Linked DNA regions of Homo sapiens. The protein of the gene in region 1 interacts with the protein of each later gene in a biochemical or structural test. Each region holds a gene or a part of one and is shown on either strand. Other genes may lie near its edges. The genes, in order: NUMBL and UBE3A.

Evidence for each region.
Region 2: the proteins of NUMBL (region 1) and UBE3A form a complex in vitro, tested with the Homo sapiens proteins (one large-scale study listed by BioGRID).

What each region holds. Positions count from the first base shown.
Region 1 is NC_000019.10:40,666,652-40,670,475, reverse strand, and holds part of NUMBL (numb-like protein), read left to right. Parts: intron 1-455; coding exon 456-578; intron 579-2,337; coding exon 2,338-3,008; 3' UTR 3,009-3,824. UniProt on the Homo sapiens protein: Plays a role in the process of neurogenesis. Required throughout embryonic neurogenesis to maintain neural progenitor cells, also called radial glial cells (RGCs), by allowing their daughter cells to choose progenitor over neuronal cell fate.
Region 2 is NC_000015.10:25,365,738-25,369,561, forward strand, and holds part of UBE3A (ubiquitin-protein ligase E3A), read right to left. Parts: intron 1-3,824. UniProt on the Homo sapiens protein: E3 ubiquitin-protein ligase which accepts ubiquitin from an E2 ubiquitin-conjugating enzyme in the form of a thioester and transfers it to its substrates.

The DNA.
Region 1 (3,824 bases):
TGCCATAGATCAGCCTGGGTGGGGTGGACAGGACCCCACTTCTCTGCCCAAAGCTGGACAAATGATCCCCAGCCAGTGAGCGGCCATGCCACAGCCCATTCAGACTGGGCCCATGTCCTTGCCATGCACGTGGTTGGGCATATTTTTAAACTAATATATGTTGCTAAGTGTTTTAGACAACTCTTCTGGTTTGTGGCCACACACAAATCTTGAGGTCCTTGGTTTGGGGTCCCTGTTACTGTCAGCCGTCAAATGTCACACACTAACTCAGTCGTTCTGCCGCTCAGATGTGACACACACATATGCACAGTTATTTGGCGGTCATGGCCACTTAGTTACTACAGTGGGAAAGGATCCAGGTCAGAAGAGAGGGCCACCGAGGGCGGGGGGTAGAGGGCGGGGCTGCGGCAGGGTCTGGGCCTGTTTGCTGACCTCTGTCCTGCCCTGCTTCCCAGTGCCTGAGATGGAGCCTCCTGGTGCCGGCGACAGTGACAGCATCAACGCTCTGTGCACACAGATCAGTTCATCTTTTGCCAGTGCTGGAGCGCCAGCACCAGGGCCACCACCTGCCACAACAGGTAAAGCCAGGCTTTCTGCTGGGCAGACACCCTGCATGTCCCTCCTGTATCCCCTCCTCTATCCAGGGCTACCCAGACACTCCAGGGGTCTTGGGATCCTACAGGCTTAGAACCATGGATCACCTCAGAGCCAGGGGATCATCCTACAACCATGGATCATCTTAGAGCCATGGGATTACCTGAGAATCATGCGATTACTTTAGAACCATGGATCATCTTAGAGCCAGGGGATCATCCTAGATCCATGGATCATCTTAGAGCCACGGGATTACCTGAGAATCATGCAATCACCTTAAAAGCAGGGATCATCTTAGAGCCAGGGGATCAGCCTAGAACCATGGGATTATCTGAGAATCGTGTGATCATCTTAGAGCCATGGATCATCTTAGAGCCAGGGGATCATCCTAGATCCGTGGTTCATCTTAGAGCCATGGGATTACCTAAGAATCATGTGATCACCTTAGACCCAGGGATCATCTTAGAGCCAGGGGATTATCCTAGAACCATGGATCATCTTAGAGCCATGGAATTATCTGAGAATCATGTGATCACCTTAGAGCCATGGATCATCTCAGAGCCCTTGATCATTTTAGAGCCACGGGATCCCCTTAGAACCATGGGATCATCCTAGAACTATGGATCATCTTAGAGCCATAGGATCACCTTAGAAACACAGATCATCTTAGAACCAGAGGATCATCCTAGAACCAAGGATCATCTTAGAGCCGTGGGATTACCTGAGAATCAAGTGATCACTTTAGAACCATGAATTATCTTAGAGATACGGGATCATTGTAGAGCCACGGGGTCACCTCAGAGGCATGTGCTCATGCTAGAATCTTGGGATCACCTTAGAGCCCAGAGATCGTTTCAGAACCATGGAATCCTTGAGAACCATGTATCATCTTAGAGCCATGGGCTTATCCTAGAACCACAGGTGCACCTTAGAATCTCAAACACTGTAAATGTAGAACTCGAGAATCTTAGAAAGCCCAACCCTAAACTGTCAAACCTTACTATGTTAGGATACTATTATACATGTGGAGAAAGATCCATGCAATCTTAGAATCTTAACTCCTAAAACAATACATTCTGAAGGTATTAGAAAATCAAGGGTGATATTCAAAATAGTGAATACCAGCTGGGTGTGGTGGCTCATGCCTGTAATCCTAGTACTTTGGGAAGCCGAGGCAGGGGGATTACTTGAGGTAGGAGTTCGAGTCCAGCCTGGGCAACATGTTGAAACCTCGCCTCTACTAAAAATACAAAAAATCAGCCGGGCGTAATGGTGCGCGCCTGTAATCCCAGCTACTCAGGAGACTGAGGCACGAGAATTGCTTGAACCTGGGAGGCAGAGGTTGCAGTGAGCCCAGATAGGGCATCCCTGGGCAACAGAGTGAGACTCTCAAAACGAACAGACAACAAACAAAACAAAATAGTGAATCCTAGGCTTGGCACTGACCAGTCAGAAGGGTAGTGGGGCTAGGAGGATGTCAGTCCTACTTAGACTTTCTCATCATAGGGCCTTAGAAGCTCAGAATTGTATGTTCTTAGCACTCCAGAACCATTACGTGGTCCAGAATGGTGAAGTCACTCGCCTGAAGTCAGCAAGCTCGGGAGGTGCAGAGCTGGGATTCAGAGGCAGGCGGTCTGGCTCCAGAGTCCGTGCTCTGATCCCCACACCATGCCAGTTCCCAGCCTGGGGTTCTTCTGCTGAAGCCGTTGCCCCCTCCCTCACCTGTCCCTCTCCTCTCTCCAGGGACTTCTGCCTGGGGTGAGCCCTCCGTGCCCCCTGCAGCTGCCTTCCAGCCTGGGCACAAGCGGACACCTTCAGAGGCTGAGCGATGGCTGGAGGAGGTGTCACAGGTGGCCAAGGCCCAGCAGCAGCAGCAGCAGCAACAGCAACAGCAGCAGCAGCAGCAGCAGCAACAGCAGCAAGCAGCCTCAGTGGCCCCAGTGCCCACCATGCCTCCTGCCCTGCAGCCTTTCCCCGCCCCCGTGGGGCCCTTTGACGCTGCACCTGCCCAAGTGGCCGTGTTCCTGCCACCCCCACACATGCAGCCCCCTTTTGTGCCCGCCTACCCGGGCTTGGGCTACCCACCGATGCCCCGGGTGCCCGTGGTGGGCATCACACCCTCACAGATGGTGGCAAACGCCTTCTGCTCAGCCGCCCAGCTCCAGCCTCAGCCTGCCACTCTGCTTGGGAAAGCTGGGGCCTTCCCGCCCCCTGCCATACCCAGTGCCCCTGGGAGCCAGGCCCGCCCTCGCCCCAATGGGGCCCCCTGGCCCCCTGAGCCAGCGCCTGCCCCAGCTCCAGAGTTGGACCCCTTTGAGGCCCAGTGGGCGGCATTAGAAGGCAAAGCCACTGTAGAGAAACCCTCCAACCCCTTTTCTGGCGACCTGCAAAAGACATTCGAGATTGAACTGTAGCCCGAGCCGCCCCACCCACTCCATCATCTCCAGGTGCCCCACGCCTGGGGGTGGAGGCACAACCTCTCCCCTAACCCTGCTCCCTGGGGCTGCGCCCCTCAACACCCTCTCAACACCCCCCTCCCTCAACCACCCCGACAACCACTACAGAACCAACATTGTGACGCCCAGGTTGCAACAGGATGGAATTCAGGGACGGACCCAGCCTGGCTAAGGGAACCATTTCACTGCCGGACTTAGGCTGGCAATGCCCCCTTCCCCAACCCCAGACACAGGGGTTGGCCACAATCCCACTGAATGCCCTTGGTTCACACTCCATTTCCCAGTTTCTGTTGACCCCCACCTTCCAGTGTTGGACAGGATGGAGGGGGGACACTTGCTTAGGGGCTCTCCTGGGCCCCACACCAGTGCCCACCCCAAATCTGGTCGTCTCCTCCCCCCATGCACAGCACAAGCTAAGGGCTGCCCTCTGCCCACACGCTGCGTTCACTGCCAATGCTGTACTCACCTCCATCACCCTCCAACTTTGGGGCCCATGTCTTCCTTGGGCCAAGGTCTCATGGGGGCTAGGGCCAAGTTGGGGGCCCAGGAGGCGGGGAGGGAGGAGGAGGAGAAGATGCGCAGTTACCTCATGTCGGTGCCCGCTGGGGAGGGGTCCGGGAAGAAGGGGAAGGGGTGCCTGGCGGGTACTTTTCTATCTTTTATTTCCAGATTTTTTTTGTATCTAAACTTGAAGATTTGTATTATACAAGGACAGCCAATAAAGGAAGAATATAATGGTGCCCCTCGGGAAACGAGGGTGTGTGTAGGGCGCTG
Region 2 (3,824 bases), on another chromosome or scaffold:
ACTCCGTCTAAAAAAAAAAAAAAAAAAAGAGGAAAAAGAAAGAAAGGCTAGCTTCAACTACTTCAGTCAACTTGAGGCTTAAACTATTGCTTGAGATTTCCAGATTATCCAAATTAATTTTTTCATGTTCACGATAAACACATGAAGAAAAGTCTGTTATATCTCAAATGTAGTTTAAATGTTTGGGTAACACCAAATCACATAATCACGTTCGTCCATGAGACCTGGAATCCTGACTTCTATTTCCAATTCTGCCATTAATTTATGTAGGCTGGAATCTCTTTTAGATTTCATTTTCCTCACATGTAATACTAAGTTTGATGTTTCATTGTCTTAAATTATTATATAATGCTGAGGATCTATGTATATATAGGCTTCATTCTCTCATTCAGTTTCTGAGAAATTACTTTGAGGGCATAAACCAAGCATATTTCTTGGTTTCATTTTTGATTTCAATTAGAATAAATCACAAGAAAGAACAATGGAAATTACATGTTAACCACAATATAGTGTATGTGTAAGACAAAATTAAACATACCTAGTGCAGCACAGAATAATCTCATTTTTAAAGCTCTGTGAGTCAATGAATAAATAAAAGAATTACGTTCATGTTTCACTAGTAAGAGTGTTCACCAATGCTGGAAGCTGGGAGCTGAAAATGCTGGAAGCTGGGTTAGACTAGGCTATTAGAAACCAGATAAAAAGGGCCAGTGACTTTTAGAGGGGATTTTGCAGAACCTCCTGGTAGTGGGGCTTTTTATCTGTGCCAATCACCTTTATCTGTGCTAATTCCTATTTTTGAACTTCCCTATTCAATTCCACATCTCAGCCATTCCTTTTGGTTTTTAGATATTTATGTGAAATGCTAGAACTCCCTGACTAATTGGAACCAAGTTTCACATCATCATCATCCTCTATTCCAAGCTTGCTGTCCCCATGATCCTCTTAAAAATCTGAGTTTCCAAAACACATAAACATACTTGTATATCAAAATGGCCTTTCTCTTTCTCTCTATATATGCACACATACACACATAAACACACATGCACACACACCCCCACCTGAGCTGAACCAAAGGCCATCTTCCCAAATATTGGAGTCTGGCTTTATCAAAATATTTGTGGAGTATTACCAGAAGTTCAGATTCATAGGCTCTACAATACAGCTTCTAATCTAAACCTCTAGAGGTTAGGGCCCTGGATTTTATTTATTTATTTATTTATTTTTTTTAAACAATTTTCCCATTCAGATGTGAAGGCAGTTTGAGGGACCTCATGATGGCAATACTATATTCTTCCATAAACTTATAACCTCTATCTTCTCCTTTAAGAAGTAATTTAAAAAATCTTAATACATACTATCATTGGAAGTGCTTCATCTAAGAAAAATGAGAAATTATCTACTTGTAAAAGAACACACAAATGGGTATATTTACATATTTGTAAATATGTAAATATTTACATATTTGTAAATATGTAAATATTTACATATTTGTAAATATGTAAATATTTGCATATTTGTAAATATGTAAATATTTACATATTTAAATTAAATTAATTTACATATTAAATTAAATTACATATTTATATTAAAAATGTAAATTTGTAAATATGGTTTTACATATTTGTAAAAACCTCATCACATTAGGAATGTCATTCAAATGAAAGGTGAAGTCTAAGCTCATGTTTATCACTGTACTGTTTTCTAAGGAACAATAACGAAAAAATACTGAAAATAAGTCCTAGGGGAACTATGGCAGTAAGTTAAACGGGTAGGGTGGGGGTGTTCTTAAGCAGTTCTAAGGTATTTGTGAAGAGACAACTTATATTCTATTGATTCTAAAATTCACTTTTTTCACATTATCTCTGAAATCAGATTACACCATACAAATGATAGCATCTTACAATGAATTGCTGGTATTTTTCTGTCTTAGCAGTAATAAAATGATAGTGTTTCCTACAATCAGAGATTAGTGAAAATACTATCAACATGAATTCTTCTCTTGTCATCAAAGACAATTTCTCTAAAAACCTCAGGAAAAAAGCTGCTAGTCTGGTTTGAATTTCACAATATATAAAAGCAATGAATATATTTTTCTTTTTTAAAAAAATCCACAATTATTAATTCAAGTTACCACTCCTCAACAGAAAACATACAAGAGTCTCATATATGAAGTCACTATTTTCTGGGCTTGATTTCTAAACTAAGGAGTGGATAACTCTAAGGTTTCTTTTAGCTCTTAAAGCCTAGGATCCCATAATTTTATTTATCAATATTAAGCTTACCACAAAGTTTCTCATTTCTTCTTTTCCACCCAACCCTGCTATACAATTCCAAAATTAGCAAGTCATAAAAAAGTGGCCACTAGTTTGTTCACTGTGATATATAAGAATGAGGCTTAAAAAGCAGAGATCCTTGGGAAATAAGATCTTGAAAAATTCATCACTTTTGAGCTTTCATATGAGAGAATAATCTTAAACCACTTTCTATTATAGAACTTCTACTATGTGTTACTAAAATATGTGGCTTTATCATAATCATCACCTGCTGTGAATACTTACTTCAAAAAATTACACAGGTTATCAATTTTACTTATAAGACCTATTTCGATGCTGGTTTTTCTAGTCTTTTCACATTCTGTTATTTTTTTAAAAAAAAGAAAAGGAAGAAAAAGCAAGGGAGAAAGAAAGTTAAGAGTAAAATCTGCTTAGTGTGAGCATTCAGAGCCCCTAAGGAAGCTTCTCTGTAAGCATCATCTCTTTCTATTTTCACAGTTTATTAAACTGCCTAACACACATGATTTCTGAAGTGAACTGCTTTTGTGGGCTGGCAATATTCAAGTACATATACTATCTAGTGAATCCTGATTTATGATAGGCCACACTATATTATCTAATTTTGATATAATTAAGCAGAACTTGCTAAAAACAAGTTACCATAATTAAAGAGCTCACAGTTAATTTTACACTAACACCTAAGGCTTTAAAAGCAGTTGTTTCCTTAAAATTCTAGAATAGAATTTAAAATATAGAATAAAGTATATACCAAGTACTTAAACTTTTGTTTTTAGTCTTGCTTTACTAGAGAAAAAAATGGGGGACTGAGGAAAATAAGACTGAGTAGACTTCTGAGCGAAAGACAGATAAGGAAGGTAGACAATTTTTTGAACCCTGGAATGATTCTTACAGTGTAATTTCATTGCCTTTTAAAGGCTAGACATAGCTTTTGATGAAGACAGCTGAAGGGATCTCACCTCAAGAAGCCAAACATAAAGTATGTAGCTTTGGCATTTGCAGTTCTGCTCCAACAATGGATAGTCATAGACAGACCTCAACATACCTTTCATAAAACATCACTCACATTCTTATAAAATACCCTATCATTCTGCTAAACTATGTAAAGTAAGGTGCTGGCTGCCTTATGATCAGTCATTAAGTGTATTAATTATTCATGTGTCTCAAAACTATGTAAGTGAAATAAAAAGGGTACCAGAAAGCAAGCAATAATAATGACTTCAGGCAGTTAAAGCCCCCTTTTGTCTCTGCTAGAAAACCACCTGAGTTGCTTAAATAATGCAGAATCTTTCTCCAACACTATAAACATATCTGACATTAAAAAAAAAAAACAAACCAGTAACAAAAAAAAAAAAAACACACAAAATCTCTGCAATTTTTAATTTCTGAGATGTCAAATAACTTTTTCCACCGGGCTACAGCTTTATGAATTCTCGAATTTAGACAATTCTAAAACTAAAATTTAGACATTCTAAAACTAAAATACATTTTAAAGTAAAAATCACATTTCCTAGTTGTCTGTGTCAGACA